Homo sapiens: one gene and its partners. The protein of the gene in region 2 purifies or fractionates together with the protein of the main gene of each other region. This does not show direct contact. Each region holds a gene or a part of one and is shown on either strand. Other genes may lie near its edges. The genes, in order: GARS1, ASNS, IARS1 and AARS1.

Region 1 (7,027 bases), about 67 Mb from region 2:
ACAACTTTGTCAGAAATAGGCCTGCTGGTAAAAACACAAGGGTTCTCATTACTGTCCCAACAAATGTACAAATGAACCAGCATGCCATCTTACAGAAGTAATTTTACAATCCAATACCCACACTATTTTCAAAATAAATTTGGACATTTGTGTTGATGAAGATCAGTTTAAAAGAAGTTTAATGTTTCTGTTTCATATGGCAATATAAAATATTATCCCCCTCAAAATCACTGGCTGCCATGTATTTGTGTCCTGAGATATGCCCATTCAGTTTCAGGTTATAAGAATTCATCTTTATAAAGAGCTTCATGTAATACCTGTATTTCAGCTTAGGAGGTATTTCCTCACATTTTGAATATCCATTTGGATTTCTCCTCCCTCCCAAGCAATTCAGTGCTAGGATAGAGAGCCCTCATGTGGTTGTCTCAGAAGCTGGATAGTTGGCATATGTTATAACTGTATTTTGCTAGTTTCCACCTGTGATAATCTCATGCCTCATCTGACTGGTGTTCACTGAATTCTTCCGTTTTTACTATTCTGTCTGAAGTCTGTGTGTGCATGCATTCAAGGTTCCATTACATACACAGTGTCACATGCATTCTCTCTGTGAGCACAGTCTAAGTGTATCATAGTTAACAGCTATAAAAGAGTTGCAATTGGGTCAGGCGAGGTGGCTCACACCTGTAATCCCAGCACTTTGGGAGGTCAAGGTAGGTGGATCACCTGAGGTCAGGAGTTCAAGACCAGCCTGGTCAACAAGGTGAAACCCCGTCTCTACTAAAAATACAAAAAATTAGCTAGGCGTGGTGGTGCACACCTGTAGTCCCAGCTACTCGGGAGGCTGAGGCAGGAGAATTGCTTGAACCTGGGAAGCAGAGGTTGCAGTGAGCTGAGATCACGCCACTGCACTCCAGCCTAGGTGACAGAGTGAGACTCCATCTCAAAAAAAAAAGAGTTGTAATTGACAAGGAGACAGCCATTATTTGAGAATAATTAATAAAGCAAACTGTGTTTATGGATAATGATATTTAACTAGTAATATAACTTAGTCCATTTTAATGGGATTTGATATTGTTTTAGTATAAATAGATGTTAATTCTGGAAGACGAGAAATGTTTTTAAATTTTTCTGAAACAGGTATCTTCAACTTGCAAGAGTTCATCTTTGTCCCATCTGTTCTTTGTTCCTTTTCCTTTTCTCCCATCTTCTTGTGGAATATTTTTTCTTATTCTACTTTATCTCCACTATTGGTTTATTAGTTACACCCCTTTTTTGTGTGTGTTTTTTTTCCAGGTGATTGCTCTAGAGTTCATTCTATCCATTTTTTAACTTATCATAGTTTATCTTCAAGTAATATTACACCATTTCACATATAATGTATACACCTCACAAGAGTATATTCCCAATTCTTTGCTCCCACCCTTTGTGCTACTGATAGCATACATTTTACTTCCATGTTATAAATTCCATATTACTTTAAATACTCCATTATCTTTTAAAGAAATTAAGAGATGACAGAGAAAATGCCATTTCTATTTACCCACATATTTATCATTTCTAGATCTCTCAAGTCCTCTGGGTACATCTAAACTTTCATACTTCTGCCTGAAGAAGTGCCTTTAACAATTCTCATAGTGGAGGTCTGCTGGCAATGCACTCTCAGAGCCCCGGATTGTCTAAAACAGAGGTGTTCAATCTTTTGGCTTCCCTGGGCCACACTAGAAAGAACTGTCTCGGACTGCACATAAAATACACTAACACTAACCACAGCTGATGAGCTAAGAAAAAAAAAATGCAAAAAAACCTCATAATGTTTTTTGAAAGTTTACGAATTTGTGTTGGGCAGCATCAAAAGCCATCCTGGGCCACATGCAGCCTGCAGGCCGCAGGTTGAACAAGCTTGGTCTTAAAGTACTTCCTCTTCATTTTTGAAAGATATTTTTGCTGGGTGTAGGAATTTTGTCTTAAAGCACTTTAAAAGATTTCATTCCATTATATTGTGATCCGCGCAGTTTTTGATATGAATTCTAATCATTCTTATCTTTGTTTGCTTTTATGTGATGAGTCTTTTTCCCCACTAGCTGCTTTAAAGGTTCTTCTCTTCATCCCTGGTTTTTAGCTATTTGATTCTCACGGGTCTTCATGTGGTCATCTTCGTGTTTATCCTGCTTGGGGCTAAGCTTCTTGAATCTGTAGTTTTAGCGTTTTCATCAAATTTGTAAATTTTCTAGCTACTGTATAATATTTTTTCTATACACCCTCTCTAGGACTCTCAATTACACATGCATTAGACTGCCTGATATTGTCCCACTGGACATCTTTTTCCCAGTCTCATTTTTTTCTATGCTTCATTTTGGATAGTTGCTATGTCTTTAAGTTCAATGACCTTTCTTCTGTAATGTTTAATCTACTGTTAATCCCATCCAGTGACATTTTCATTTGAGATATTGCCTCTAAATGTTTCATGTTGTTTATATATATAAAAAACATGTGTTTATATCCATATTACACATATATTTTTCCATTTCTCACCTCACATGTTAATGTTTTCCTTTACACCCTTGAGTACATGAAGCATATTTATAATAAGTGCTTTAACATCCTTATGTACTTACTGCATCATGTTTGTTTTTTCTGGGTGTTTCTTTTGACTGACTTTACTTCTCATTTTCCTGCTTTTTCATATATATAATAATTTTTATTGTTTGCTGGATATTGTAAGTTTTACACTGTTCAGTGCTGGATTTTGTTGTATTTCTTTAAAGGCTTTTCTCTATTTTTTTTTTTTGTTTTTTTTTTTTTGAGACGGAGTCTCACTCTGTTGCCCAGGCTGGAGTGCAGTGGCACGATGGTGGCTCACTGCAAGCTCCGCCTCCCAGGTTCACGCCATTCTCCTGCCTCAGCCTCCTGAGTAGCTGGGACTACAGGCGCCCGCCACCATGCCCGGACAATTTTTTTGTATTTTTAGTAGAGACGGGGTTTCACTGTGTTAGCCAGGATGGTCTCGATCTCCTGACCTCGTGATCTGCCCACCTCAGCCTCCCAAAGTGCTGGGATTACAGCCATGAGCCACTGTGCCCGGCCTTCTCTATTGTTTATATTCATGCTTAAACAATTACAGAGAGTATTCTAAACCTCCAAAAAGGAGAGAGAAGTGACCTGAGAGATAGTAGATGTAGTTTCTAACCCTTCCTTCCTCAGCCTGGCTGGACAAGTCTCTTTGTTTAAGACAGTTACTAGGAAAAAAAAAAAGTATATTCTATTTCAAATCTTTTTTCAGGCTATAATGCCAAAATCTCGGCAAAGACAGTCTTTTAAATGCAGCCAAGATACAGTACTTACCTGCAAAAAATCTTAAGAAATTAATCTCATCCTTTCAGAACCTGGCAGATGACACAACTGACTGGAGCCCATGGAAGAGTAAACATCTGATATCTTACCCTTTCTCATTCAGCAGCATCTCCATTTCTGTAATGTAGCACTCATCACAAATGGCAAGATACTCCATCACCAGTTTTGCATCCTTCTTATATGCCTTACCAATTGCTCCCTTACTGGGTTCAAACTGAACAACATTGACTGTTTTGTATGAAGTAGTCAAGGAATCCAAAACTACAGCACTGCCTCAGTATTTCAGAAAATGAGCCTGAGAACAATCAATCATCAACTTAAAACCATGCCAGCTCTCTATCAGTACTCCAGATCCTGTTTATGCTGATTTTAAGGCAAGATGAAACACCTGTCCACAAAATCATTCAGACAACTCTCATCCAAAATTAACACCATCAATAGAAACTTTTCCAGTTACAGTGAGAAAAAAGAGATATTATCTAATCAGCAATGACCCAACCCATAGCATAAGAACTTCTGATAAGTATTTCTAAAATGCTCAAAACAAGATCTATTTCCTGTCACTGACCTACCCCTAAGAAATCAGCTCATAACTTCACTGCCTACTAAAGAAAGAAAATTTCTATTTTGCTGATTTTCAGACCAAGTGAGCTAAATTATTATTTCAGCTACTATCAAATGGCACTCATCTTTTAATGGAAAAAGCTTTCACCAGGTACCCTTTATTTAAAGAGCACGTAGGTAGGTGCAGGTGTGAAGTGCGTTTTGGAAACAGCTGAGAAAAACTATTAACGTTCTGAAAGATATTCAGAGCATTTTTCTAAATATGCTTCTTTTAAAGGCCAAACATTGAGTGGGCACACGTCAGACTACAAGTACAGAGAATAGGAAAGGAACAAAGGGATAGGTAAAATAATAGGTTTAAACAAGCGTTACTACAGTGTCTAAAACATCTCCATTTATCCATAGAACAAGGTAAAGACTTGGACTTATTCATTAGCAAGATGTTCACATGTGAATCCTGAGTTTTTGGAGTGACCAGAAAGGATATGGGTTCTTTCAGAGGTTTCTCAGCTACAAGTGGGACTTTGGTGGCTCGTGCATGACAGGAGAGGTCATAACAGGAACGATCAGCACATCCAACAATCTCAATCCAACCCTAAAAAGATATAATCAATAAAAACATTACTTACTTATTATTACTTATATTGGGTTCATTCACAAATGCATGCAGATTATAAACCTTTCATATATTCAATGATAATTCGATGATATAATCTTCATTCAAATTTCATAAATATTTGAAATGGGAATAGCCTCATATATCAGGCAGCTAATAAGCCTATAAAATATAATTCACACTGATCTGGGTGTGATGGCTCATGCCTGTAATCCCAGGTACTTGGGACGCTGAGGTGGAAGGATCACTTGAGGCCAGGAGTTTGAGACCAATCTGGGCAACACAGTGAGACCCTATCTTAAAAAAAAAAAAAAAAAGAAAGAAAAAAATATATAATTCACACTGTACACAAAGTAGTCTTCCTTTCTGGATGGATTTATATTGTTATACTGAGTCTGTGGGGTAAACTAACATATTCTGGAATTTAATTATGGAAATTAAATGTGAACCTAGACAAAGCCTGTAAATTTGGTTCAAATTTGTGAACAGAAATCAAAATGAATTTGGCAGAAACCACTATTCTTTAGATGAAGTACCTAGTGTTCTCACAACTTGATATCAGATGGCTGACTAAACACATACTTCAGCTGGCCATAAATGTGGGCATTTGGATTCAATTCACTTTCTTCACTGAACAAAAGAAAACTCAGTATAAGAGTGGGTAAAGTTCAGGTCACACAATAAAATTATATAAGAGCATTATGATCACATTGATGCCAGGTTCCCTTTCTTATAAATACACACATAAGATACTTTTAAAAAGCAAAATTTAAATTATTTTCAAAGAACCTGCAATGAATTGAATGCTTGTGTCCTTGACAAAATTCGTATATTGAAATCCTAACTCCCAATGTGATGGTATTAGGAGGAGGTGCCTTTGGGAGGTGATTAGGTCATGAGGATGGAGCCCTAATCACTGGAATTTGGGACCCCAGAGAGCTCTCTTGCCCTCTTTCACCATGTGAGGATACAACAAGAAGTTGGCAGTATGCGACTGAGAATGGGGCCCTCACAAGGATCAGACGATGCTGGCACCCTGATCTCTCAATTCCAGCCTCCAGAACGGTGAGAAATCAATGTCCATTGTTTATAAGCCACTCTGTATGTGGTGCTTTCTTATAGAAACCCCAACTATGACAAACTCTTAAGAACCCGTTATTTCAATAAGAACAAGAGTTTGTAAAGAGCTTATTTTGGTAGATACCTAGTTAGTCCTTCTCAAGAAGATTCATTTTTTTTTTTTGCCCTTGATCCAAAGAGTTTGGGGAAATTCAACCATCAAAACTACTAAGCTTGGCCAGACACAGTGGTTCGTGTCTCTAATCCCAGCACTTTGGGAGGCTAAGGCGGGTGGATCACCTGAGGTCAGAAGTTCAAGACCAGCCTGGCTAACACGGAGAAATCCTGTCTTCATGAAAATACAAAAATTAGCTGGGTGCAGTGCCATGTATCTGTAATCCCAGCTATTTGGGAGGCCGAGGCAGGAGAATCGCTTGAACCCAGGAGGCAGAGGCTGCAGTGAGCTGAGAGTGCACCACTGCACTCCAGCCTGGGTGACAGAGTAAGACTCTGTCTCAAAAAAAAAAAAAAAAAAAGAAAAAAAGAAAAAACTACTAAGCTTTCCAAGCACATGTTATCACATGGGGTGTCTGTAATAAAGCAAGCAAATATAAAACTCATATGAGCTCAGAAACTCCAACACAAAACAACAACAAAAGGAATTAAAGAACAAAGCCTAAAAACATGTAACCTGGCAATCTGACATTCCCTATACATGTCGACTGGTTAAGTATACTTATGTTCTTAACCATATAGTTTGGTGGTTATAATTTACTGCAGATGTCAACTAACATTTATGTACTGAAAGGTAAAATTACAAAAACGTGCCTGAGAATAACAACATTGGGATAGTGGTTACTTCTCTGGATGGAAAGAGAATTGGTGTGGCATTAACTGCAACGGTAAATTTTTTTATTAAAAAAATATATAAAGTACACAAAAAGTATTAAACTCTCTAAGGGAGTTCTCCCCTCTCCTTAAGAGCCTCTGGGACTCTGGAGCTTCTTGTTTCATTTAGCCCTGTTTTCCAGTGACTTTCCATTTTCTGATCCCTAACCCTCACAATGGCACTTAGATAAGGACGAGCAGGCATCCAGTGGGGTTTATAAAGCAGTACAGCATAACTGTTAAGAGCATGAGTCTGGTGTCAGACAGCCAGGTTTATATCCCAGCCTCACCACTCACTGGCTGTGAGACTTAAGCAAATTACTTAACTGAGACAGCAAGAACAACATCTGGTTTAATCTGAAATCAGAATCAGAGCAAACTAAGAGAAGGAGCTGGGTATGAAACAAAAAGAAAAGTAATAATCTTTTCTCATACAAAAGGAAAAACATTTTATTGGTTTGATCTGAAAATAAAAAGAAGTCCCAGAAAATCTAAAAAGTGTAAAGAAATTAATGATCACCCATAATCCTAAAAATAATTACTATTATC
Region 2 (7,027 bases):
TCCTTCTCCAGAGAAGATCACCACGCTATCTGTGTTCTTCCGAATATACTTGGAAATTAAATACATACCTTAAATGAGAGAGAGAAATTAACTTTAATGTCAACATAACCTTCCACCAAAAATGCCTTTGATTTGATTTTTGGAAATAATTGAAAGCTTTACTACTATACTGGACTTCATATTAATATAAAGTAGTTTCCACAATAATGACCTTGTATTTATAAGCCATTTATATGTACTTAATCCAAAAGTACTACTGTAAAATAAAATAACCCGGAACCATTTTGTCATTTTCTAAACAGGTTTTAAAATTCTAATGTTTTTAGACCAAGAATGTCCACCTCAAAACTTTGCTAAGCTGAACAATGACTCAAATACCTAAAAATCATGCCTTTCATAGTGGTATTATGACACAAAAATAAGAATAACCGTTTTGGTGGTTTAGTGTTAATTTTGATGGGTATTTTCCCCCTGCCACTCCCCATTTACCAGATTTCACATAAAGCTGGGGAGACTATATAAGTTATTAAACTTGCCTCCTTGGTCCTGCACCACATCTCTCTAAACCAGTGTTTCTTCTCAACCTTGTTTTTATTATCACCTCAGCTAGAGAGCCTTTTTAGACACTTATTTTCCTAACCTCACCCCAGCCCCATGAAATTCCAATACCAGAGCTATCCTGTCTATCTGCTTATTTACTGTGATGTTTTGGAGGGCCATAAACCATTGTAATACCTAAGATATTTTTGCCTTCCAAGGCAAGTCTCTCAAGGGAGGCAGTAGCATATAAAGGCTCAATAACACTGGATCAGTCTGATTTGGGGTATACTTCCAATCTCAGTAGATACATTATCTACAAGATAAAATTAGTATTGTTTGCAGAGCAATGATAGCTAGTGACTGGTAAGTTGTGTGATGGAATATATCTAAAATGACTATTTCTTATCAAAAATGCATTACCAAAAAGACCTATTTCCTCACTGTATATAGACTGTAGCCCAAGAAACTATAAGAGAAATGGGAGGTAGAGGGCAGAAAATATGTATCTGCTCCCTGGGGAAACACCAACAGTGACACCAACAATGTGGAGGTTGAACTACGTATTTACTATTCCCTTCACTCCAAAAGAGATTCAGAGAATTCTTAAGTGGTCTTAAATAATCAGTAACATAGGGATTTAATTTGCATTCATCCTTAAATAACATTTTAAAACTATGGCTTGAAATAATTTTTTTAAACCTTACATTTTTTTCAGTATTAAAAAAAGCTTTTTATTTAAGAATATCATAATACCTTACCTACTGAAGCACGAACTGTTGTAATGTCATAAGTTTCCAAGGAAAATATGACTTCATCCAGAGCCTGAATGCCTTCCTCAGAGTTAAAAAGGACTTCATAATGTTCACTTCCAATATGATCTGCCACCTTATTATATAAAGAAATACCCATTTACTTGTTAAAGAAAATAACTTCCCTTGAAAATCAAACATGATGGGAGTTCACAAAGCTTTATGAATTAACAATGGTGAAAACTAAACAAGGGAAAAAAAGAAAAATGACTTTACAGCCCACCACATACAAGCCCCATCCAGCACTGTTCCCTCGCCTGCTTCAACTCCACCACCAGGAAGTAAGTCTCCCCTCAGCTCCTCTGGTGCCAAGGCTTCAACCATTCTCCCAGTTGGCACCTCCCTCTCTACCTATTTTACCTAACCCACCTCATCTCTCTCTAGTCCAACATGGTCCCACGCTAAGCTTGGTCTTTTTTGGTCCTTCTTAAATGCCTAATTTTATATCCAGGATGTTATTCTTATATAGAATGGCCCTTCCCCTCATTCTGCTTTCCTTGGCTATTTTGGATTCTCTCGGCATTGATTACCTTGCACTGAGACTGCTCTCTAGCTTTTTCTCATCCATGCTACGAAAGTCCTCCATAGTGGGAACTAGGTCTCCCGCTCACTGAATACAGACAAGCTGCCCTCTGCCCACAGTATTCTAAATACAGTACTTTCAAAAATAATAATAACAGCTAACACTCATTAAGTACTTACTACATGCTAAGTTCTACCCTACTTACTTTACATGAATTATATCATTTCACCTTAAAATTTCCCCATAGCAGACACTATTATTTTGGTTACATAAATGAGTAGAGCCAGGATTTCAAACCACAAGTCAGGTTCCAAAGTCTGCAGTCTTAGCCATGATACTATGCCTTTACGTTTAAAAAAAAAAAAAAAAAAAAACGAACAAAAAACCCGTTTTTTTAATTTTTCAAGATGGGGTCTTGCTACGTTGCCCAGCCTGGACTTGAACTCCTGAGCTCAGACCTCCCCCCACAGCCTCCCAAGTATCTGGGACTATAGGTGTGTGCCACTGCACCTGACTTATGCCTTTACTTTCTTTTTTTTTTGAGACAAGGTCTCACTCTGTCACCCAGGCTCCCATAAGGCTAAGACTACAGGCATGCGTCACCAAGCCTGGCTAGTTTTTGTATTTTTTTGTAGAGATGGAGTTTCATTATGTTGCTCAGGCTGGTTTCAAACTCCTGACCTCAGGTAATCTACCTCCCTCAGCCTCGTAAAGTGCTGGGATTACAGGTGTAGGCCACCATGCCCAGACACCTTTACTTTCAAAAGAGCATACTTATCATCATAGGGTCTTTGTGAGAATTGCATGGGTCATAACAGATAAAAGTACACAGAGGACAGTGTACAACACAGTGCATATCCAACAGCCATTTCATTCTATTTTAATACAATCAATTTAAAACAATTGACCCAGTCAATACAGCAGCAGTAGAATCACCCATTATTGACTCCATTTTCATTCTAATAACAAGTCTACTCTAACTACACTACACAAGGGACAGAGACAGCACCTTACCTTTCTAGCAGCCAGTAAATCGGGGCTGTCTTCCATGCCAATTGCAAATGTCTGGAGAGGATACTGTACTTGGGCTTCTTTCAGCTGCTTCAACAGAGTGGCAGCAACCAAGCTGGAGTCCAAGCCCCCTACATGCAAAAGAGGAAGTGGAAGTGTCCTAGTTATGTGCCTTGCATAAGACAGGGACAGAAGATGTATATTCCTGATAAACACCAAGATCATAGTTTTACTATTTAAAATCCGCCAAGTTTTATAAACTGAAATCAACTTCAACAAGAGAAAAATATATAAACTGTGATAATAGTAGTATTTGAATTGGTTAAAAATCACTACACAGAATTCTAAAGAACATTCACTGACTCACTCTTAACACCAATAACATAGCTATAGTGTAACTCAAGTTGGAGTATGACTATGACTATTAAATACAGCTTATAAAAAATCATTTCCATCCTATAATGAAGGAAAGAGTAAATCATACAGTAAATATTTTATAGTAAAAACCAAAGGGATGGCTACAAATCATTTCAATTAAACACACATGAAATATAATTAGGTTTTTTTAATTGACTTCACCTGATAAAAGGCAGCCAATCCTTCTGTCTGTCATCAAACGTTTCTTTACAGCATTATTAAAAAGGATCCTGAGGTTGTTCTTCACAGTTTCTATCTCAAAACCTATAAACACAGCAGTAAATCAAACAGCTCCAGAAAATCTTGGGCTGGATTAGTTATTGAAATGAAATACACAATCATCAACATCTATCATGATGGTATTTACTCAATGGTGGAGTGTGCCAAATCTTAATGTGTTCCCTCCAAACAAAATAGGAAGTAGGTCTTGAAACTAAAATCATTCAAATGATGGGAGAATACAACTTAAAATTTTTTTCCCTTGGAGAAGGATGGGGAATAGGTGGGTGGGTGTCTGCTACCTGGAAAGAGTTTCTCCACATTGTCATAGAGGGCGTGCAGGGGTACATCCCGACAGTGATGATATTTAACCATTTCCACGGATGCAACTTTGCCATTTGGCTTTAAATCCAAAACTTCATAGTGTCCAGGAAGAAAAGGCTCCACTTTTAAAAAGGGAGTCGCGGAGTGCTTCAATGTAACAAGACCTAGAAATTCACAATGATACCTTTATTCAAATTAGGTAACCCTTCCCAATAACTTTCACGATTAGTTAACATCATCTACATTCCTATTTTCCCTTTTTAATACAAACACATACCCATTAAATAAGCAAAATAGGAAAAAAAATTTTCTATTTTCCTAAGCCCTACCATCTACTTACCTGAGAGACAATAATGGCACAGGGATATACTGCCAAATTACACTAACTTTTCGTAATTCAAAGAAATAGAAAAATCTCCAGTGTTCAATTTCTTCTTCTTAGATTTCTAATCAAGAAAACCTATTTTCTATACTAAAGCAAATACACAAAAGGAAAAGACACACTTATGAAGCAAAGGGATGAACTGGAGTCCTAATGTTATGATAGGCTGGGAGTCATTTATTTGTCATCACTGAGGTATTTTCAGAACACAGCCATGGTTCCCAGACCTTTAACAAGTACAATGATCCACTTTTACCTACTTTAAAGTCAGATAAGAAGACATCTATCCCTTAACTAGTTGTTATACACTATATGTGAATAAAACCATATAACTTAAATTTCCTCAATAAATTCTCACAGACAGTACAGTACCCAACCTCTCATCACCATGATCTTTGATACAAACATCAATGTTTTATTGTAGATCGTAATGGACTATCTACATGGAATACTCGTGATTTACAATTTGAGATTGTCTACCCAGCCAGTAACCTGTGTAGCACTGAATTCAAATACCAGAAAAAGGACCCAGATTCCCTCACCAGCCAGCAGAGCTCAAGTGAGCTACACAACCCGGATAGGGAATGGGGAGTAATTAAAAGGTTTTAAGCAGGCAATACTATAATCAGATGAGATTTTGACAGGTTATTCTAAAAGCACTGAGAAAAGAAAATTGTTGCAGTATTCCAGATGAGATAATTTGGTCTGGAAAAGGACAGTGTCAAGGATATAGAAAAGAACAATTAAGGAATTTCAGAGGGTAAGTTCCATATCAAGTGATCATCAGGCTCAAAGAAGGCCCAGGGGAGCAGGAGGCTGCTTTTCCCCAGTGTTCTCTTTACCAGGCTTTCCCAGCAGTCCTGGCAACTGACATATATATATGCTTGTTCTTTGCCATCTGATCACACTAGAAATGCCTGAAAATAAGCCAGTTCCAGTATTAGTACAAACACTGTGACTAGTGTCCTAAGGACCCCTTTGATTGATCTCATTATCCCTGCTTCAGCCAATATTAAATCTGAAAATTAAGTGAGAAAGAATTTAAAGAATGGCAAAAAGAGGCAGGGAGAGAGATATTAGGATGTTACTGCTGCACAGGTAAGGGATAAAAGATAAATGTCTTCCTCAAGTTTACCATCAAAAAGTGCTATGCATGATTTGCAAGTATTTTCTTCCAACTTGTGGGCCGTCTTTTCACTTTCTTGATGGTGTCCTTTGATGTGCAAAAATGTTTAATTTTGATGAAGTCCAATTCATTGATTTTTATTATTGTTGCTGGTCTCATATTTAAGAAAGCTTTGCCAAATCCAGGGTCATGACAATTTACTTCTATGTTTGCTTCTCGGGATTTTATAGTTTTAGCCCTTACATTTAAGTGGATTAGTTCAAAACTGATTCATTTGATCCTTTTTTTTTTTTTTTTTGAGATGAGTCTCGCTCTGTCACTCAGGCTGGAGTGCAGTTGCGCGATCTCGGCTTACCGCAAGCTCCGTCTCCCGGGTTCACGCCATTCTCCTGCCTCAGCCTCCTGAGTAGCTGGGACTACAGGCGCCCGCCACCACGCCCGGCTAATTTTTAGTAGAGACGGGGTTTCACTGTGTTAGCCAGGATGGTCTCGATCTCCTGACCTCGTGATCCACCCGCCTCGGCCTCCCAAAGTGCTGGGATTACAGGCATAAGCCATCGCGCCTGGCCTGATCCATTTTTCTGTATCCATAATTTTTGTATACGATGTTGGGTAAAGATTCAACTCCAAGTTTTGCATATGGTTACATATCTGGTTGCCCCTGTGCCAGTTTTCAAACTTCTTTCTCCACTGAATAATCTTGGCACCCTTGTCAAAAATAAGTTGATCATATATGTATGGGTTCATTTCTGACTCTCAATTCTATCCCACTAGTCTATACATCTATCCTTCTGTCAGTATTATATTGTCCTTATTACCATTGTCTTGTAGTAAGTTTTAAAATCAGTTAATATGAGGTCTCCTACTTTGTTCTTCATTTTCAAAAGATTGTTTTGGCTATTCTTAGTCTCTTGCAATTCCATATGAATTTGAGAGTCAGCTTGTAGATTTCACAAAGAACTCATCTGGGATTCTGATAGGGATCAAGTTAAATCTGTAAATCAGTTTAGGGAGGACTGCCATCTTAACAATGTTAAGCCTTCAAATCATGATCATGGGATACTTTTCCATTTATTTAGATCTCCTCTCATTTCTTTCAACAACATTTTATAGTTTTCAGAGTACAAGTTTTACACTTCTTAAATTTATTTCTAAGTATTTTATTCTTTTTGATGCTATTATAAATGAAGTTGCTTTCTTAATTTCATTTTGATTGCTCATTTTAAGTATGTAGTATTCAGTTAAAGTGTGTCAAATACCATTGATTTTTGTATATTCATCTTGTATCCTGCAACCCTGATGAACAGAAGGGATTTGTATCTAGAATACATAAGGAACTATTACAATTCAGTAATAAAAAGACAAAATAACTCAATTAGAAATGGGTAATTCAAGAATGGATAAACAAATTGCATTGCATGCAAACAAATGGAATATTATTCAGCAAGCACACCAACATGGCACATGTATACATATGTAACAAACCTGCACGTTATGCACATGTACCCTAGAACTTAAAGTATAATAATAATAATAATAAATGAGCTATCAAGCCATGAAAAAACACAGAAGAACTATAAATGTATACTGCTAGGTGAAAGAAGCCAGTCTGAAAAAGCTACATACTATATGATTACAACTATTATACGACATTCTGGGAAAGGCAAAGTGAGAGA
Region 3 (7,027 bases), on a different chromosome or scaffold from region 2:
CTTCCCTACCTTAATATCATACTTTCATAAGTATATCTAAAATTCCTAGATGTAACAACAGAAATGCTATTGTAATCTTTCTTTTTTTGTACTGTACTTTTATGGAGAACCCACTACCAGAAGAGTTAAATGTTTTTCAAGCCAATTGCTATTTACTTTTAATGATAATTACCAGAATCCACACACTGCCTTTTCTAGTTTTAGAAAAAACAGGCCATTTTATTTCCGGGCAAAGCTCATGTACCCTCCTGGCTACCTTCCTCAAGAGAACTGTTGTGAAAACAGTTCCATCTTCCCTCCCTGCTCCATCTTTTCTGAGCTTCCACTCTCTGACTCTACCCACTACTGTCCAGAGCAATACTTCAAGACAGAGTGCTGTGCCGATCTCTACTGTGGGACAGAATATCAACACGTGAGTACACAAAGTCAAACCTAATCTGAAACCCTTTAGTAGTAGTTCAGTGGAACTCAGGACTCACCTGTGTTTTTTCTTGAATAAGGACTTTATCCGATGGAGAAACTGGATATGGTTTCAAGGGAGCCTTTATGGTGGTAAATATGAACTCTGTGTGGCTTTCAATAACACTATTCAGATATGTTCCTTCAGACTTTGCTTTATAGTACACTGTGATTTCATCAGTTGGAACCAGATTGCACTGAAAACACACACAGAAAAATTTAAAAGGGAAGTACATTCTATTAATCAGAACTGAAGGAAGGTACTGTTGAACAAGGGCTACAGATCCCATGCTGAATCATCACAGAAGGGCAGTCACCCTTCCCTCCCTGCTGGGTGATCCGTAAGACTAACTGCACTCAGTACATGATTAACTTTGTGTCTTTTTCACCACTCTTTGGGGGATAGGGCATGTTTCTTTTCCTAGAACAATCAGTACCTCATGAATGTTGAAACCAAGAAATTACTTAGAACCCACTTACAAAGCTCTGAACTGATTCAGAGGTCACAAGCACCCACTCATCTGCTGGAACAGCCTCCTCAGACCTTGAACCGTCTGGGAAGAAAGATGTATGTTAGCTGTCACTGCCCTCTACAGGGCAAGAAATTCCTGATTCTCTCACTAGCAGGGGCTTTGCAGCCCCTCTGCGCTCCAGGATGAGCTCCCTGCATATTCCTCAGCTCTCTAATAAGGAAAAACTACCCAACTCTGTCCAAATCCGGGAATCTCCCCTAAGCTAGAAGCCTGTCTATGCTGACTGCACCTCTGCCCTTCTGCAAAGACACTATCAGCTCTGATTACCTTCTGCTCCAGTCACAGGGGATATTCTGTAGAAGCCCAACGGAGCTAAAAAAAAGGATGGGAAAAGGCACAGGCTGGCTGAAAGCTACGACTTGGGAGTGAACACGTGGGGAGAGGAAGAGGAGTGACTTTTCTGCAGAATACATTCCAAATGGACTATGGATTAGTGATTGTTATGCATTGATCACTATGGTTTATATTACCTGCCTCTCCTATCTTCTCCAAACAACCAAAACAAACAAAAAGCCAAAACAGTAGCTTATTCTTAACTGACAAACTAACCTTTTTGCGAAGTTTCTGTATGCGATTGATGACTTCCCGAGCCATTCCTTCATCTACCATTGACTGGTCAGGAGTGACATCTAAGAGGACCAAAGCCTGTGGGAATGAACAGTGCACACCATGACAATCAAATAAGGAGAAACACTTCTTCCCAACTCAGCAAAATGTTATTTAAATCTGGAGAGTCTATAATGCAGCACTATTTTTTCACACAAATGAGCAAAAGCAATAAAATTAATCTAGTTTATCATTCAGGTACTTCTTCATAATCAGCTAGTCCTCTGTCTCTGGAGAAAGGTGTGCAGGTTTTTGTTTCTTGTTTTTTTGTAGGGTGCTGCTCACAGGAGATGCCCTGGGACCACCTCTTATCAGAGTCCCTCACATGACTCTGCTTTTTGGCCATCTAAGAAGTAATATCAACTCTTCTAATAAGTAAGATCAATAATCATGAAGCCCTTGGAGCAGCACAGCTTTTCAGGCCACAACAAGTGGATCAACGGCCTCAGCGCAGTCAACTCCAAGTGACTTTCCTATACCATGACCCCTGTGATCTTCAGGTTTGTCAGAACGACTCAAGACAAATTCTACAATGGACCACAAAACTTTCTGTGACTTAAACTGCCATATTTTTGCTAAGGTTAATGTTTCTATCTCATCTATTCTGAAGGTTGCTGATTATGATGTAGCAATAATGACACTATCGCTTCTGTTACACAGCATGTTGCAGAGTAAAATATACTCTACAAAAGACTTGTACATTAGGCATCATCTCATTTACCTTTGAGTAAACAGAGAAGTTAAGAAATGACTCACTTCATAAAGGCATCAGAGGTAGTGAAATGCATGATAAACTCAAAATTCCAGTCAGTGCAGGGCCACTACAACATGTAAGCCATGTCAAGAAACTCAGAAGCATCACATGACACTTTTGTAAGGTGGACAACTTTTCAGGCCCCTAACATCTGCTGTAATGAGGAAGAACTGCCCACTGTCAGTGTTTAGAAACCTCCTCCCTGCCTTCTTTCCCAGCTACGATACCTCCGACTCCTTGCCACTGTCTTCCCACGTAGAGTTCTGTACACATCTAACTTAAGCGCCTGGGTAAAGGACTGAGGAGGTCGACCTTCCTTTCATGGAGGTGCTGCTCTACCTTCCCCTGCACATGGTATGCTAAGCACAGAGGGACCCCTGCAATATCCCCAAACCCACATGCGAGATCTTACAACTATGCTGACTGGGGATGTCTGGTCAGGACTGCAAAGAGATAGTCTCTTCTCCAATATGGCAAAAAATATTGATCCTGGAATCTAAAACAGTTTGTATATTCTCTTGAAAAGAGTGTTCCCTGACCACTTTTCACCCTACACCTATTTTTGGATAGGAGCCCTCTGTGTACTTATTTCTACCAGATAACTTATCAGGTAGAATACTAAGAACTGGCTTAATTTCAGGTGTCCTTGACTGACTCATTCCTTGAAGGGTTCATTTTTGTGCAACCCCACACTTGGGACAATGACTGACATGTAGAAATCACAAAATGCTTACTTATGTATTCACTAAACAAATGCATATGTTAAGGGCATAATAATATATTAGTTTAATAAAGCCAATCTAAACCAAGTAACTGGTTTATTTTACCCTGAGACAAGCTGTCAACATTATCAGGAAAGGCACAGGCAAATACTTTCTCCTCTTATGCTCTCATCTCTTGGTAAAGAAATGTTCTAGGAAACAGAAAAATACCTGAGCATCTGAGTGTGCTTCAAATTGCGCAGTCCCACCTGTGGCCTGATCAAAGGTGTACATGAGGCGGATGTCTTCATCGTGCAATTCATGGCCTTCCACAACAATGGTCCCTATGGAGAAGCAGCTACACTGTTAATCAGCTTCCCCTCCTCTTCAAGCTGCCCCACTACCCGTGTATTATGCCCCTTCTTGATTAAAATTTCACAATAACAAAGCCACAGAGGCTTCAAGAGATCATTTCCCTCTGACTCATGTCATGGTTGTAGCCAAGACATGACAAACTTTCTTTAGATTACACTATGCTACCTTGAAGACAGTTAAGTCATCACCAGTATCTACTGTTTTATATAAACTCTCAGGTCCAAAGACATGACAAAGCTAAGGGAAGGCACCAAGAGGCAACAAATGCTCACCATAAACACAGAGCAGCAGGATGTCATGAAGAAAATACAGTCTTTAAAGAGAAAGTGAACTTAGGTCCACTATTTGCTGGTTGTATGACATGGTGTTCTGCTACCTGCTGAGCAAGGTGTGGTGAGGCTAAAATGAGACGGGCAGTGTGTAGTACTGAGCATCATGCCTGTTCAGGGGAGGCAGAAATGTGAACAGCTGCTGATGTTAACACCCCCGCTGATAGGGAGGCCCACTGTTGTCACTGATGATGACCTTCTTGGGCTCTGAGCACCCGGGTGTCATTTTTATGTTTACTTTGTCTCTGTGTTCTGAAGATGATCTTGTTTTCCATCAGTGCAGAACAGTACGCTCAGAAACTAGGCTTTCAATTTCAAATAAGGTTTAGCCCAGGAATTTTTTTTTTTTTTTTGAGACAGAGTCTTGCTTTGTCACCCAGGCTGCAGTGCAGTGGCAGGATCTCGGCTCACTGCAAGCTCTGCCTCCTGGGTTCACGCCATTCCCCGGCCTCAGTCTCCTGAGTAGCTGGAACTACAGGCGCCTGCCACCACACCTGGCTAATTTTGTGTGTGTGTGTGTGTTTTTAGCAGAGACGGGGTTTCACCGTGTTAGCCAGGACAGTCTCAATCTCCTGATTTCGTGATCTGCCCGCCTCGGCCTCCCAAAGTGCTGGGATTACAGGCATGAGTCACCACCCCCAGCCATCTCAGGAATTTTTGATGCTTTGGCTATCTGGCGAACAATTTAGATTTGTGGCTTGAAGGCTCGTAACACTTTGTTATTTTAATATTTTGAGTTGATTAGTAATTAGTAATAACTTGAGGTTTAGCTGCTGATGTCTTATGTTTTATTAATTCTATCTAAATATTTGGAGAATCTTAGGGACAGTTCCCCCATCTGATTTATGAATCCTCAAATCTCTCTTCTCAAGACATCTCCTAGCTTATGATTTTCAACTTCAGAGGAAGCCGTAACAATAAACAGCTTGTGCCCCAGGATAGTTACAGGATGTCAGACAGCCACACTCAGACCATGTATGATTCTAATCATGGCAGAGCTGCAAATTTCTGGGCACCCTGAAATGCTCTGTATAGGGGTAGCAAGATGGGGCTGATTTCCCTTTCCTAATCCCATCATTTGGTTAGGTACCCCCACATGTTTTTATGTTACCCTACACCTTCCCTTTATAACACTTATCAAAACCATAATTATTTTCCCAAATCTTCAATGTCAGCAAGCACCATGAAAGTAAGGACAAAATCACCCTAGGCTCCAGGGATCCTCCCACCTCAGCCTCCAGAGTAACTGGGATGGCAGGCACATACCACCACATCTGGCTAAGTGTGGTAGTATGTGCCTGTAGTGATCTCAAGTGATCTATCCAACTGGGCCTCCCAAAATGCTGGGATTACAGATGTGAGCCGCTGGGATTACAGATGTGAGCCTCTGTGCCCAGCTATTTTCTTTCTAAACTGTAAGAATTATTTATAATAAACATTTTTATCAACAGGAAAAAAAGTTTTACTTAAGAAAAGGATGGACCGGTGCAGTGGCACACACCTGTAATCCCAGCAATTTGGGGGACCGAAGGCGGGTGGATCACCTGAGGTCAGGAGTTAGAGACCAGCCTGGCCAACATGGTGAAACCCTGTTTCTACCAAAAATACAAAAATTAGCCAGGCATGGTACTACGTGCCTGTAATCCCAGCTACTTGGGAGGCTGAGGCAGGAGAATCACTTGAACCTGGGAGGCAGAGGTTGCAGTGAGCCAAGATCGCGCCACTGTGCTCCAGGATGGATGACAGAGCGAGATTCTGTCAAGAAAAGAGAAGAGAGAAGAGAGAAAAGAGAAGAGAGTAAGGAAAGGAAAGGAAAGGACAGGACACGACGGGACACGACAGGACAGGAAAGGAAAGGATGTGATATTAAAAGTCAAACAGTAGCCTAAAAAGTATCCCTCAGACTCAGGACATAAATGGTGCCCTTGTCTGTGTAGACACCTACCAGTCTTCTGGAACTGCTCCAGCTCCTCACTGCTCAACTGCTTGATGGACGTCATCACTGCCTTAAAGGCTCCCTTCAGACGCTTCCCCAGGACCATGTGATCTGGTTCTGCCCTTAGCCGAATGCCATACTTGTTTTTATCTGTAGACAGTGTAACTTTTCGAACATTGAGTTCCTACAGTTAATGCACAAGAGGAAACAAAAATGAGAAATGAAAACATATGTTCACACAAAAATGTAGGTCCACAGCAGCATTATTCCTAACTGCCAGAAAGCAAGAACACTTCAAGTGTCCATCAACTGTGAATGGATAAACAAAATGCAGCATACACATGCAATAGAGTATTTGGCAATATGAAGGACTGAAGCACTCATATGTGCTACAACATAAATTAATGTGAAACATTATGCTAGGTGAAACACGCCAGACATAAAGATTACAAATTGTATGATTCCACTTATATGAAATGTCCAGAGAAGGCAAATCCAGAGATAGCAAATAGGTTCGTGGATGCCAGGAAATGGTCAGATATTGAGGGGAAAATGGTTTGTGAATGTTAATGAATACTGGCTTTCTTTCTGGGACGAGGAAAATGTTCTAAAACTATGGTGATAGTTGTACCATTCTATAAATATGCTTAAAAACCAGTGATTTGTATGGTAAGAAGAAAATGCTTGTTATGAAGATCTATCAAGACAGTTGAGCATAACAGAAAAAGGACTCCAGACCCAGAAATATAAACCTCATCCCTCAGAGGTAACCTTTGTGCAAGCAATTGCAGAGTACCACAAGGTTAACTATTAACTAAGCAGAAGATCAGTTAAACAGAACACTTCATGCTTCAGTCATGCTACTGAGGATTACTGATGCGGCAGGGATGGTGATGGCACAGTAGCGGATGGGAAAATGAGAACAGCTTGAAGCAAATAATACGGAATGTTTAGTTTTGCCATTATATTTAGCTACATTAATTAATCTCATTTTAAGTGAAGTAGTTAATTTCAAAATTTTTCAGCTGGGTGTGGTGGCGCAAACTTGTAATCTTAGCACTTCGGGAGATCGAGGTGGGAGGATCACTTGAGCTCAGGAGTTAGAGACCAGCCCGGGCAACATGGCAAAACCCCATCTCTACAAAAGCCTGTACTACTATGCCTAATCTCCGCCACTTGGGAGGCTGAGGTGGGAGGATTGCCCGAGCCCAGGAGATGGAGGCTGTAGTGAGCCAAGATCACATCACTGCACTCCAGCCTGGGTGACAGAGCGAGACCCTGTCACAAAAAAAAAAAAAAAAAAAAAAAAAATTTCTATTTTATGCATAGCCACA
Region 4 (7,027 bases), on a different chromosome or scaffold from region 2:
GCCTCTCCCTCTCCCCTCCACCAACCACCACCACTGCCCCCGGCAAAAGCACAGATGGAGAATCACTGCTTTAAACAAACTTTTTTTTTTTTTGAGACGGAGTCTCGCTCTGTTTCCCAGGCTAGAGTGCAATGGCGCAATCTCGGCTCACTGCAAGCTCCACCTCCCGGGTTCACACCATTCTCCTGCCTCAGCCTCCTGAGTAGCTGGGACTACAGGTGCCCGCCACCACGCCCGGCTAATTTTTTCTATTTTTAGTAGAGACAGGGTTAGCCAGGATGGTCTCAATCTCCTGACCTCGTGATCCGCCCGCCTCGGCCTCCCAAAGTGCTGGGATTACAGGCGTGAGCTACCGTGCCCAGCCTGCTTTAAGCAAATCTACGTGCAGGACGAATCTGATACAACAGAGTGAGAGCACCGCACTGCTAAGACTGTGGACAGACAGTGACGGTGTGGGGAGGGGGGGCATTCAGCCGTCGCCCATCCTACCTTGGCTGCCTCAATCATCTCATTAGCAATCTCTTCAGCCTTCTTGATCTGTTGGGTGGACATGGCTCCCTTGGCAGTAAAGTCAAATCTGAGGCGGTCAGGAGCAACCAATGAGCCTTTCTGGTCAGCTTCCCCAAGCACTGAGCGCAGGGCGAAGTTCAGAATGTGCGTAGCTGTGTGGTTGCTCATGATGGGTCTTCGTCGGGGCTGGAAAGGGCAGAGGGGCTCATGGAGAGGTCTGTAATAGACTGCTAGTTATCTCCTCGTTATCTGCTCCCCCGAGTGCTACAATTTTTAGTTGGAAATATGGCTGTGCAGAATAAAGGTTACATTTCCCAGCTTCCCTATGGCTAAGTGTGTCCATGTGACTAAGTTCGGGTCAAAAGGTTTTGAACAGAAGTGATGTCTACCATTAAAGGGATGGGGCAGGTCCTCCCATTTCTTTTCCACCGCCTAGAACAGGAATTGCCAAATGACGGCCGATGGCTAAATCTAGCCTGTCATCTGTCTTTTCATTTTTAGAGACAGGGTCTTGCTCTGTCACCCAGGATAGAGTACAGCGGCGCGATTGTAGCTCAGTGCCACCTCAAACTCCTGGGCTCAAGTGATCCTCTTGCCTCAGCCTCCCAAGTAGCTGGGACTACAGGCACACACCACTACCCCCAACTAATATTTTTTATTTTTTTGTAGAGATGGGGTCTCATGTTGTTGCCCAGGCTGGGTCTCAAACTCTTGGCCTCAAGCAATCCTCCCACCTCAGCCTCCCCAAATGTATGTGTTTATAAATTTTTATAAACAGTTTTTTTTTTTTATAAGGAGTTTCGCTCTTGTTGCCCAGTCTGGAGTGCTATGGCATGATCTCGGCTCACTGCAGCCTCCATCTCCCGAGTTCAAGCGATTCTCCTGCCTCAGCCTCCTGAGTAGCTGGGATTACAGGCATGCACCACCACACCCGGCTAATTTTGTATTTTTAGTAGAGACAGGGTTTCTCCATGTTGGTCAGGCTGGTCTCGAACTCCCGACCTCAGGTGATCTGCTCGCCTCGGCCTCCCAAAGTGCCGGGATTACAGGCATGAGCCACTGTGCCCAGCCATAAACAGGTTTATTGGAACACAGCCACACCTGTTCATTTACATATGGTCAATGGCTGCTTGAACACTCCAACTATAGAGCTGAGTACTCATCACCAGGAACATGTGGTCAGCAAAGCCAAAAATATTTAGTATCCAGTTATTTACACAAAGTTTGCCAACCCCTGGCCTAGACAATGGATCTGATAGCTATCCTCTGAACCAGGAAATCAAAGGCAATGCCCCAGGAAAGAAGGTGGAGTGACAGGTGAGGAGAAACCAGGCCCTCTGACTGTGGGGCAGAGCCTCCGTATCAGCTTGAGCTTTTTAGAACATACACTGCTATCCTGGTTTTAAGCTACTCTTACTCTGGAGCTCTGTCACATGCCAGAGCCTACCTCTTCATTCTTCAGCATCCTTGGCTCCCAAAGAAGTAGGTGACGTTAGAAAAGCAATCCGTGAAAACAAGTCCACGGGATCTTAACTGAAATCACTGGTGAAATCACTGACTTGGGAACATATAGATTAACTCTTAGTTGCATCCCTCACAATCCACCAAATGCACCTAAATTAACCCCTGCGGTCTACTTACACTAGGGAGTGATAACAGTGACAGGACAATTTTTTTTTTGAGGCGGAGTCTCGCTCTGTTGCCCAGGCTGGTGTGCAGTGGCGGGATCTTGGCTCACTGCAAGCTCCCCCTCCCGGGTTCACGCCATTCTCCTGCCTCAGCCTCCCGAGTAGCTGGGACTATAGGCGCCTGCCACCACGCCCAGCTCATTTTTTATATTTTTAGTAGAGACGGGGTTTCACCGTGTTAGCCAGGATGGTCTCGATCTCCTGACCTCATGATCCACCCGCCTCGGCCTCCCAAAGTGCTGGGATTACAAGTGTGAGCCACCACACCCGGCCCAACAGTGACAGGACAATTTAAAGCCAGAGGAGAAGATAATTACTAACCAGATCCAATGGGGGCCACAGTAACCCAACTCACCTCATCAATAAACAGCCAGACCTGATCCCCCACTTTCAGGTCACCGTAGATGGTTCCAATGTGTAGCACATACCCTCCTCGGACCTGAGCATTCTTCACTGTAAACTCTGTTTTCTAAGAGGGGTCAAGGAAGAGACCAATAAATAAATCCTTAAAAACATACAAATTTTCTTATATTTTCAATATAAACTCGTGTATATAACTTCTCTTTACATATGTAAATTGCACACACACACATACTCCCTTAATATCATTAAATATGATTAAATAGGCCAGGTGCAGTGGCTCATGACTGTAATCCCAGCACTTTGGGAGGCTCAGGTGAGTAGATCACCTGAGGCCAGGAGTTCGAGACCAGCTTGGCCAACATGGTGAAATCCCATCTCTACTAAAAAAATACAAAAATTAGCCAGGCGTGAAGGCAAGTGCCTATAATTCCACCTACTCAGGAGGCAGAGGCAGGAGAATCGCTTGAACCCGGAAGGCAGAGGTTACAGTGAGCCAAGATCATGCCACTGCACTCCAGCCTTGGCTACAGAGCGAGACTCCATCTCAAAAAAAAAAAAAAAAAATTAAATATATTTGTGCACACACACAGACATAACCAATATTAAGGAGCATCTTAGAATTTTTTTTTTTTTTTTGAGACAGAGTCTCGCTCAGCCACCCAAGCTGGAGTGCAGTGGCGCAATCTCGGCTCACTGCAACCACCCTCTCCTGGGTTCAAGCGATTCTCCCCTCTCAGCTTCCCGAGCAGGTGGGATTACAGGCATCCACCACCATACCTGGCTAATTTTTGTATGTCAGTAGAGACAGGGTTTCACCATGTTGGCCAGGCTGGTCTTGAACTCCTGACCTCAGGCGATCCACCCGCCTTGGCCTCCCAAAGTGCTAGGATTATAGTCATGAGCCACCACACCCAGCCGCATCTTTGAGTATCTAAAAGCCTCCATAAGGAACCTGAAGCCTAGGGAGACAAAGTAACTCATTCAGCAGCGGCAGAGCTCGAGGCTGAGTTTTCTACAAGGACATCTCCCCTTCAGAGAGCTGCCTCTCCTTTTTAATGTGCAAAGCTTGTAGGAAACTTGTACCCTGGCTGCAAAAATACTCCTACGAGGGTACCCGATGGCCAGGAAAGCAACAGGTACAAGCAACAGCTCCCTCGGCTTCAGAAATACCATGGAACCCAACCCAAAGGTGTGTCAGGTCTGCTCCCAAGGCCTGGAGCACTGTGGGGCAAAAGCAGCTCCCCGGCTCCACGCCTGGCCCTCCTCGGCTAACAAGGAAGAACTGTTGGCTCACATCTTCACTGCTGTCATCCACCTTCACCAGGTAGCCTTCGTCATAGATCTGGCCTCCTTGCTCAGCATAGAAACAGGTCTTGTCCAGCACCACTCCACACTCCTGGCCTGTGGACACCTCTTCCACGAACATCTTCTCCCTGCGCAGAGCCATCACCGTAGCCACTGTGTTCTCAAATACTGCTCAAGGGAAATGCATAGAAAGGGGACAGTGGGGTCAATGACCTTTTCACTCCTTCTTGGCTGACTTTTGCTGGATTCTCTTTCGCAAACTCTTCTTAGCTCCTAATTGTCCAATTGTATTTTGGAAGCAAACTCATTAGACAATATGAAAGGGCTTCGCGGCCGGGCGCGGTGGCTCCCCCTATAATCCCAGCACTTTGGGAGGTCGAGGCAGGCGGATCACGGGGTCAAGAGATCGAGACCATCCTGGCTAACACGCTGAAACCCTGTCTCTACCAAAAATACAAAACATTAGCCGGGTGTGGTGGCGGGCACCTGTAGTCCCAGCTACTCAGGAGGCTGAGGCAGAAGAATGGCGTGAACCCAGGAGGCGGAGCTTGCAGTGAGCCGAGATTGTGCCACTCCACTCCAGCCTGGGTGACAAAGCAAGACTCGGTCTCAAAAAAAAAAAAAAAAAAAAAAAAAAAAAAACAACAACAACAAAGGGCTTCGCATGCTGGCTTTCCATCAAAGAATGCAACACTCTGTCGGGTGACCAACTGTCCCAATTTTTAGGACTGAGGGGTTTCCTGGGATGCAGGCTTCAGTGTTAAAACTGGGACAATGGGTTACCCTAACTCTGAGCTACTGAACAGAAACTTGGTGCATCAGATTAGTAGATCTTTAAGAGTAGTAATAAATTCCCTAGTCCAAGGTCAACTCACAAAGAATGTACTCATTTTGTAGGCTTGCTTGAATAGATTTAGGTGTAAGATTGTTCTCAGCCGGGCACGGTGGCTCACACCTGTCATCCTGGCACTTTGTGAGGCTGAGACGGGTGGATAACCTGAGCTCAGCAGTTTGAGACCAGCCTGGCCAACACGGTGAAACCCCGTGTCCACTACAATACAAAAATTAGCCAGGTGTGGTGGCACATGCCTGTAATCCCAGTTAATTGGGAGGCTGAGGCAGGAGAATCACTTCAAGCTGGGAGGCAGAAGTTGCAGTGAGCCGAGAATGCGCCACTGCACTCCAGCCTGGGTGACAGAGCGAAACTCCATCTCAAAAAAAAAAAAAAGATTGTTCTCTACCAGGGCAAAAAAGCTGCAAAAACATGTATTGCCAATTTATTTTTATGTTTTTTTTGAGACAGGGTCTCACTCTGTAGCCCAGGCTGGAGTGCAGTGGCACAAATATGGCTGACTGCAGCCTCTCAATCTCCCAGGCTCAAGTGATCCTCCTGCCTCAGCCCCACAAATAGCTGGGACTACAGGCATGCGCCACCACACCTAGCTAATTTTTGTATTTCTGGTAGAGACAGGGTTTCGCCATGTTGCCCAGACTGGTCTCAAACACCAGAGCTCAACTGATCAGCCCACCCTGGCATCCCGAAGTGCTGGGATTACAGGCATGAGTCATTGCACTGGCTTTGTTTCTTAACTTTAGAATACTATTATCCGGTCGGGCGAGATGGCTTACGCCTGTAATCCCAGCACTTTGGGAGGCCAAGGCAGGCAGATCATGAGGTCAGGAGTTTGAGACCTGCCTGGCAAACATGGTGAAACCCTGTCTCTACTAAAAACACAAAAATCAGCCGGGTGTGGTGGTGCGTGGCTGTAATCCCAGCTACTTGGGAGGCTGAGGCCGGAGAATCGCTTGAACCCAGGAGGTGGAGGTTGCAGTGAGCCGAGATCACACTATTGCACTCCAGCCTGGGCAACAGAGGGAGATTCCATCTCAGAAAAAAAAAAGAATGCTATTAGGATAATAGCATTCTAACAGCATTAGGATAATAGAATCCTAATAGCATTCTTTTTCTTTTTCCCCGAGACGGAATTTCACTCTTGTTGTCCAGGCTGGAGTGCAATGGCATGATCTTGGCTCACTGCAACCTCTGCCTCCCAGGTTCAGGCGATTCTCCTGCCTCAGCCTCCCGAGTAGCTGGGATTACAGGGGCACGCCACCACGCCCGGCTAATTTCCGTATTTTTAGTAGAGATGGGGTTTCATCATGTTGGTCAGGCTGGTCTCAAACTCCTGACCTTAGGTGATCCACCTGCCCCGGCCTCCCAAAGTGTTGGGATTACAGGTGTGAGGCACAGCGCCAGGCCCCTAATAGCATTCTGATAGTCACTGTGGATTGTATCAATGTCAATTGCCCAGTTTCCTGCATGATGTTACAATTAGGGGAAACTGGATAAAAGGGTGTGAGACCCTTCCTACAAATTTTTTTTTTTTACAACTTCCTGTGACAATAATTATTTCAAAATAGAGTTAAGAAAACCTCCAGCCAAGGGTGCCTATGTGTATAAAAGTGCATAGCGTGACTGTACGGCACTCCAGGAGAGGCTGTCAGCAGTCTGCTGGAGAGCTAATCTTGAGAAACAATCTTTCAAATACCCCCCAGATACGGGGCAGAATGCTCAGATGTGGAAGGAGCACAGCAACATACCATAGCTACCACTGGAGTCCAAATGGTAATTGTACTTTGGGGAATCATCTGTGACCTCCAGACCCCGTGCCCGGAGCTCTTCGATAGCGTAAATGTCCAGCATAATGAGGTCTTCCCCACCAGCTCCCTTGCCCTGTGATTTCAGCTGTCAGCAAGAGAAACAAGCATAAGTTACCGTAAAGTAGGAGAAAAGGGACTCCAAAGGACTGGAACTTGCTAAACTATGCCCAGCATAAACTGCCAGAACAGGGTTTTTCAATCCTGGCACTACTGACATTTGGGGCCAGATCATTCTCTGTTGTGGAAACTTCTCTTGCAGTGTGGGATGCTGAGGGGCACCCTGGCCTCTACCAAGTACGTGACAGCAGGATCTGCCCCTAGTTGTGAAAATCAAAAATGTCTTCAGACATTATCGCCAATTACTCCCTGGAAGGCAGACTCGCCCCCACTTGAGAACCACTGATCTAGGGGAAAAAGCACTTCAAAGACTTTAATGGAAGGAAACTCATGCTCAGTCTGCAGCCAAGTGGTGCTGGGTTGGAAGGTGTTGGGTTTCCTGT

What was found.
Region 1: the proteins of ASNS (region 2) and GARS1 fractionate together in Homo sapiens (co-fractionation; 2 studies listed by BioGRID). This does not show direct contact.
Region 3: the proteins of ASNS (region 2) and IARS1 fractionate together in Homo sapiens (co-fractionation; 2 studies listed by BioGRID). This does not show direct contact.
Region 4: the proteins of ASNS (region 2) and AARS1 fractionate together in Homo sapiens (co-fractionation; 2 studies listed by BioGRID). This does not show direct contact.

What each region holds. Positions count from the first base shown.
Region 1 is NC_000007.14:30,618,876-30,625,902, reverse strand, and holds part of GARS1 (glycine--tRNA ligase isoform 1 precursor), read right to left. Parts: intron 4,511-7,027; coding exon 4,403-4,510; intron 3,587-4,402; coding exon 3,441-3,586; intron 1-3,440. UniProt on the Homo sapiens protein: Catalyzes the ATP-dependent ligation of glycine to the 3'-end of its cognate tRNA, via the formation of an aminoacyl-adenylate intermediate (Gly-AMP).
Region 2 is NC_000007.14:97,855,392-97,862,418, forward strand, and holds part of ASNS (asparagine synthetase [glutamine-hydrolyzing]), read right to left. Parts: intron 4,008-7,027; coding exon 3,822-4,007; intron 3,565-3,821; coding exon 3,463-3,564; intron 3,015-3,462; coding exon 2,887-3,014; intron 1,426-2,886; coding exon 1,299-1,425; intron 69-1,298; coding exon 1-68.
Region 3 is NC_000009.12:92,241,675-92,248,701, forward strand, and holds part of IARS1 (isoleucine--tRNA ligase, cytoplasmic), read right to left. Parts: intron 5,878-7,027; coding exon 5,703-5,877; intron 3,398-5,702; coding exon 3,285-3,397; intron 1,638-3,284; coding exon 1,542-1,637; intron 657-1,541; coding exon 480-656; intron 1-479. UniProt on the Homo sapiens protein: Catalyzes the specific attachment of an amino acid to its cognate tRNA in a 2 step reaction: the amino acid (AA) is first activated by ATP to form AA-AMP and then transferred to the acceptor end of the tRNA.
Region 4 is NC_000016.10:70,258,491-70,265,517, forward strand, and holds part of AARS1 (alanine--tRNA ligase, cytoplasmic), read right to left. Parts: intron 6,613-7,027; coding exon 6,468-6,612; intron 4,035-6,467; coding exon 3,856-4,034; intron 2,668-3,855; coding exon 2,554-2,667; intron 697-2,553; coding exon 490-696; intron 1-489. UniProt on the Homo sapiens protein: Catalyzes the attachment of alanine to tRNA(Ala) in a two-step reaction: alanine is first activated by ATP to form Ala-AMP and then transferred to the acceptor end of tRNA(Ala). Also edits incorrectly charged tRNA(Ala) via its editing domain.